Linked DNA regions of Homo sapiens. The protein of the gene in region 1 interacts with the protein of each later gene in a pairwise test. Each region holds a gene or a part of one and is shown on either strand. Other genes may lie near its edges.

Region 1 (3,370 bases):
TGCCACGCAGGGGTTAAGGGGCTGCAGGACTCCATGGTACAGAGGAATGGAAGTGTCCTTGCCCTCTTCCAGACTCGGGGCAGGGGGAGACAGCGGGGAGATGGGCTCCTGGAACCCAGCCTGTTTCTGTAGAGCCCCAGAGGGGCCAACAACAGGAAAGACCAGAGTCGTGGTCAGTAGTGCACATGCTTAACAGGTCTTTGGTGCTTGGGTAGCAGCATCTCTTATGTACAAAGGCTTCTGAAGCCAGCAAAGCTGGGAAAGTCATCTCCTGCACAGTCGCGGCCTGACTCCTCTCCTGGTGCTGGCCATCGGCTACACAGGGGTGCAAAGCACAAGAAGTCAGTCTAAACTGCAGTGAAAACACAAAGATTTTAGAAAGGGTTTCCTGAAGATAGATAGATAGATAGATAGTTAAACCTTGGAAGGTTACCTTCTCTTCCCAGTTCTACTGAGGAACATCAGAAACTCAGCCCATAAGCCCTACCCAGCATGGTAGGTCTTTCTCATAGATGAGAAACTCCTAGGTTTTCTCTCCAGATATGAGTTGAGTAGTTAGTTGAGTAAAAGGAGGGGGCAAAGGTTCTGAAGGCCCAGAGAGCTGCCCACCTCACAAGCCCCTGGGCTCCAGAACCAGCCAGTTCTCAGTGACCATCTGCACATCCTGGCCACTCAGAGGCTCCCGCAGCCTCACCTTCACCTCCAGCTTCCCCCCGGTGGGCTTCCTTCCATCCAGGACCTGTGAGGACCACAGAGAGGGAAATGGTAACTAAGGGGACAGAGATGGGGAGCAGGCAGGTCCCTACATTCCCAGGAAAGAAGTGAGAGGAGCTAAGATGTCCTGTGGCATGAACACAGGAATCTCCATTCATGAAAACCCTACCCTCCCAGTATTTGGAGGAGGAGGTGGTGGTGGTTTTAGGTGAGTCTTATTAAAAAAGTAATAAATAAATCCAGACAAGCATCCTAGAGCTCTGTTCATTTTCTCCTCAATCCCCACGGCAACTTCTGGAAGAAACATTGGCTTGAAGAAGCAGCCTTCCACTGACCCAAACCCTCACTTCACAGATGGCCAAGAGAGAGAAGCAGATGACTCTATGTGGCAGAGTCAGCACTGGAACCCCAAACCCAGGGTTCCTTCCCATTCACCACGCTACTCCCTCTTTTGGGCAGAAGATGAGGCAGTCAATTAGGGCACAAAGCAGTACAATAGGCCCAAGAAGTCCAACCACCCTCAGTGGCTCCAATAGAGACCAGGGCCCGCATAAGAACAACTTCCCCAGGCAGGCAGTAGGGCCAGGTGTGCTACAGTGGGAAGAGCCCCAGCCTACATAGGTTATCAGTAAGGAGCTGGTCGTAGCTCTGCCAAGGACACACCATATGAGCTTACAGAACCCCCTTTCCTCTCGGACCTGAGTTTCCTCATTTGTCAGAGGCAAGGTCGTATAGTCCTTGCCTGTGGAATCCATTGAGTTCATGGAAACAAGGAGGCTGCCTTCTCCTGGGTCCCTCTGTGAGATTTCTCAGACCTTCTGAACCTCTCCATCTGTGAAATGAGGATTCCACCTACTCTAAGCACACTTGTGGAGAATTTCAAATTAAGTAATGAGCACGAAAACCTACAACAAGGTGTGGCATTCAGTGCGTATTGGCTCTTGTCGTACCAACCCCTTTGGCTTGCCCACACCCCAGCCCCTACCTCCACAATTTCTCTGATCTCACACTCATTCTCCAGCCGCTCCAGTTTCAGGTGTGCTGTGCCAACCAGCTTGTCGCTTCTGAAGAAGGACCTGGGGAGTCAAGAGGCAGCAGAGGATTGGACTGGGCAGGGAAGGCAGGAATGTGCTGGCTGAGCCCATGCAGGGGCAGCAGTGACAAACGCTCTTCCCTCCTCCCGGCCCGTGTGGCAGCATGACCGATAGGAGCCTCACCCTTTGTGGAAGATCTCAAACTTGATGCCTTTGCTCTGGATCACCCTCTTGAAGCCCCGGTGGTTTCGGTTGATGTTTAGTTTGAAGAGTTGATCAAATTCTGGCAAAGGGGGAGAAAGCAAGGAGGGGCTTGGCTCTCGGGATTTCCTGAGGAAGTGGAAATGGAGGCCCAGGGCTGGCTGCCTTCCCCCAATCTCTCCACCTGCATTTTGGGGTACTGCCTCCAAAGGGTGGTAGAGCATCGCGGTCCTGGCCTTGGAAGTGAGTTTTTGTACTCTTTTTAGTCATAGATTGTAACAAAGTAGGAAAGACTTGGAATTGGGATACAGAATTCCTGTGTTCATATCCCATTTCTACCACTTCCTTGCCATGAGGCCCCAGGCAAGTCCCTGTACCTCTCTGCGTGTTTCTCCAACTACAGAAGAAGCATGTTAACAGCACCTTTATCTCCCAAGTGGGGTGGATCAAGTAAGGGCATAGATGGGAACCCACTCTGGAAACACCAGTGCTGCCCACACACTCTGAGGGAGGAGAAAGAGGCCCACGTGTGGCCCTCACCTGGAGAGTTTGTGTTCTTCACCACAGCTGTTTTGCTTTTTTGAGCCTGGTCCTAAGCAGTGAGGAGGGAGAAGTCAGGACAGCGTATAAACAAAGAGGCACACAGGGCAGGCACTGCAGCCACACCTCCCAGGGATGGGAAGAAAGTGAGCACAGGGTCCTGGAATGCAAGGCGGGTTTCAGAGGATCCTACTTCTACCTGAACCTCACCGAGTTAGGGTAGTGAAACTCAAACCGCACAAAAGCATCCAGGTCATCGGGAGTCACCCCTGGGAAGGAGAAAAGGGAGTCAAGTCAGAGGGAGTGGCCAGGAGCCTAGCACTTGGAGTGTCCGGGCAAGAGCCTCCTGGAGTAGGGGCGGCCCTAGGGTTACCTGGAGGGGCTGGGAGGTTCATTCCCCGGACAATGATCAGATGCATTTCTGTGCTGTTGAGTTCTGAGAAGATCCTAGAGCCAAGCGGGAAGGAGAAAATGCTCAAAAGTGAAGGACAGTAGTGGAACAAGGTCCCTTCGTCCAGGGCCTGTCTGCCCAGCTGGGTGGTGACGGGAGGGAAGGCAGAGCTGGTATGCAGACCTTGATCTCTGACTTCTGGTCCAGAGCTCTTTCCACAGCACCCAGACAGCTGTGCGCTCTCCACTAGCATGCACCCTGTCGTCCTCAGCAGCCCCAGTGCCCACAGCGGGGCCAGGCTTGGGAAGCCTCACTAAAGGGGTAGCAGTCTCTGGCCTGGGCTCCCAGCCTCCTGCCCCTCCCTGCCTGGAGCCCCTGTTTCCCTAGGCCTTGGTACCTCACAGTCTGGAATGTCTTCAACTCAAAGTGGTGGGTGGGAGGGTCGAGGCCCTGAGCCTGGGCCAGCTGCAGGATCTCCAGCTGTTTCTTG
Region 2 (2,570 bases), on another chromosome or scaffold:
TGCAAAGGGTTGCAGTTGGAGCTGTGGGTGCTGGGTGGCAGGGACAGTCACTGGGCTTGCCGAGGCATCCCAATGATGCACCTTCTCACACACCCCCAGGTGGGCACCCTTCGAGGCCTTCCCACAGGAGCGTAGCTCACTCAGCCTGGTCAGCCTGGTGGGTACCCTCTATGCCATTGGTGGCTTTGCCACACTGGAGACGGAGTCTGGAGAGCTGGTTCCCACAGAGCTCAATGACATCTGGAGGTGAGTCCCACCCTGGGGAGGCAAGGGGGCATCATGAGCAAGGCTGACACCCCATAGCACCATGGTGGGGTACCAAGGCACTGGGCAAGCTCCTCTGGGGGCAAAGCGGATCCCTCTTCTAGGGAGTCCTGTAGGGAGGAATAGCCAACATACCCTGCTTGGCCGTTTCTCACCAGTTTGTTGGGAAAGTCTGGGCTTGCACAGATGACACCATGCCCCACTGTGGAGCAGCAACAGTGTTGCAGATGGGAGCAGACCCAAGCTTAGGTCATAGACTCACAGAAACAGGGCCCAAATAGCAGCCGGATTTTCTTCTCTCCTGCCTTCCGGGTGCTTGGTCTGGAGGGAGGGCTGCCACTAGGGCTGGGAAACAGTTGGAGCCCTGGCCTTTCAGAACCATTGCTCTCTATGGCTGGTCCTTTGTGGGGGTGGGAGAAGGAAACTTTAGCCTCTGGGGCATCTCCTTCCTGAACCTGCAGCCATCTGCACTGCTGCAGGCAGCCCCTGGGGAGCAGTGCTGCCGGAGGCTGAGACGTGAGACTTAGTAGAAATGGAGCATGGAAATTCTCAAGGAGAGGACATTGATGGGGTGGTGTGGGCAGTGTAGACCTTCCTGGAGGGGAACTTTGAGGAATATGGGAACACCCCTTGAGAGGTGATCTTTCCTGGGGAGAAAGACCCTTCCTGGAGTGTGGGGTGGGTGTTCCTTGGGGTGGGTCTTGTGGGGGGTCTCCTTTCCCAGAGCCTGGGGATTTTCAGGAGCAGATCTCCCTAGAGATGGGCCAAGTGCCCTCAGCCACCCCTCTCTGCTGCGTTCCACTCTGGACTCAGCTGACCAAGCTCTCCATCCTTGTCCCCACTCTCTCTCATCCCCAGGTATAACGAGGAGGAGAAGAAATGGGAGGGTGTCCTGCGGGAGATCGCCTATGCAGCAGGTGCCACCTTCCTACCAGTGCGGCTCAATGTGCTGTGCCTGACTAAGATGTGACCAGCTCAGGCAGACTGAACTAAGCACCCCTCCCATCCTGCGACCCTCACTGGCCTGGCCTTGTGGGGGCTCCAGAAAAGAGGCTAGGAGAGGCCAGAGTCTACCTGGATCCAGTTATGGTGCCTCAGGGGCTGCGTCAGCCAAGGAAAGGGAAGTGCTGCTTAGTCCTGGACTTTTGGGCAAGGGTGAGAAACTAGAGGCTTCTCCAGTGTTGCCATATCCCCCTAGGTTGTCTTGATCCATGAACCAGAACCACAGGGCGGTATCCCAGGCCGTGTGCTGGCCCTGCCCCAGCCTAGCTGAGTGTGCTGGCAAAGTTCCCCACAGGACTCAGCCTTCTCGTCTGTCCGATGGGAGCATCCCCATCAAGTGCAGTGTACAGTGCAGATATGTCTCCTTCTTTAGGAAGAATAAAGTGCCTTCTGAGCAAGCAGCTCAGGGTCTGCATCAGTGCTCCAAGAGTCAGTGAGCAGGTGTGTTGAAGACTTGGGGCTTCAGTGTTCTGCTGTTGGGCTGCCAAGGTCGATGGTCTCTGCTCTCCATCTGGTGTCCCCTCCACCCTATGGGTGGGAACCCTCCCCTGCCTGAGGCCTAGAGCCTCCAGCTCCTCAGCCACTATGGACGTGGAGCCAGGGGACTGTGGGAAGAAGGGTCAGGGAACAGCCAAGCTGTTGTAGAAAAGTCTTTTATTCTATCGGTCAGGCCCCATCTGGCCCAAGAATAGCTGAGCAGAGCCCATCCCTCTACCCGCTCCCTCCTACTCCGGCTTCTCTTTGTCCTGCTTCTGCTCCTCCTCCAGTGCCAAGGTTCGCTCACGCTCCTTTACCAGCTGGACGCCACAGTAGGTGACAAACAGGATGGACAGCGTGGTCTGGGGGAACCCTGTGTGGGGAGGGAGTCATAGATGCTCAGGAGCAGCACTGCATCCTCAGCGACTTTTGTCTTCCCACCCCTCTCCCCGCTTGATGGGCCCTCCCTTCTGAGTCCCAGGGGTGATGAGGGAGATAGGAGGCATTTTGGAAGGTCACGGTCCTTGAGGCTGATGCCTGGCACCTTCTGTATCCCCACACCCCTGTCCCTCACCTGTGAGTAGCAGGCGCCGGGCAACCAGCTCTGTGAATTTGAGGCTGTTCAGGCTCACAAGGTTGTACATGATGATGGCCCAGAAGTTCATGGCTCCAAACAGGGCCCGGACCCTACGGGACATCTGCACTGACAGAGAGGCCTATCCGGTCCAGGAAAGCATGGGCAGCGGGACAAGAGGCCAAAGGAAAGAGGACATGGTGGGTCAGCAGCCTTACCCACCTGGCCAGTCAGGTCTTGGGGCTATGTCTGG

What was found.
Region 2: the proteins of CC2D1B (region 1) and KLHL40 interact in a two-hybrid assay, tested with the Homo sapiens proteins (one large-scale study listed by BioGRID).

The regions. Positions count from the first base shown.
Region 1 is NC_000001.11:52,352,909-52,356,278, forward strand, and holds part of CC2D1B (coiled-coil and C2 domain-containing protein 1B), read right to left. Parts: coding exon 3,278-3,370; intron 2,937-3,277; coding exon 2,863-2,936; intron 2,759-2,862; coding exon 2,700-2,758; intron 2,542-2,699; coding exon 2,490-2,541; intron 2,032-2,489; coding exon 1,932-2,031; intron 1,791-1,931; coding exon 1,700-1,790; intron 740-1,699; coding exon 611-739; 3' UTR 610-610; exon of another isoform or gene 316-609; 3' UTR 1-315. UniProt on the Homo sapiens protein: Transcription factor that binds specifically to the DRE (dual repressor element) and represses HTR1A gene transcription in neuronal cells.
Region 2 is NC_000003.12:42,690,760-42,693,329, forward strand, and holds the end of KLHL40 (kelch-like protein 40), read left to right. Parts: intron 1-99; coding exon 100-246; intron 247-1,122; coding exon 1,123-1,234; 3' UTR 1,235-1,785; downstream 1,786-2,570. Other genes in the region: HHATL (protein-cysteine N-palmitoyltransferase HHAT-like protein), read right to left, coding at 1,992-2,116, 2,318-2,459. UniProt on the Homo sapiens protein: Substrate-specific adapter of a BCR (BTB-CUL3-RBX1) E3 ubiquitin ligase complex that acts as a key regulator of skeletal muscle development.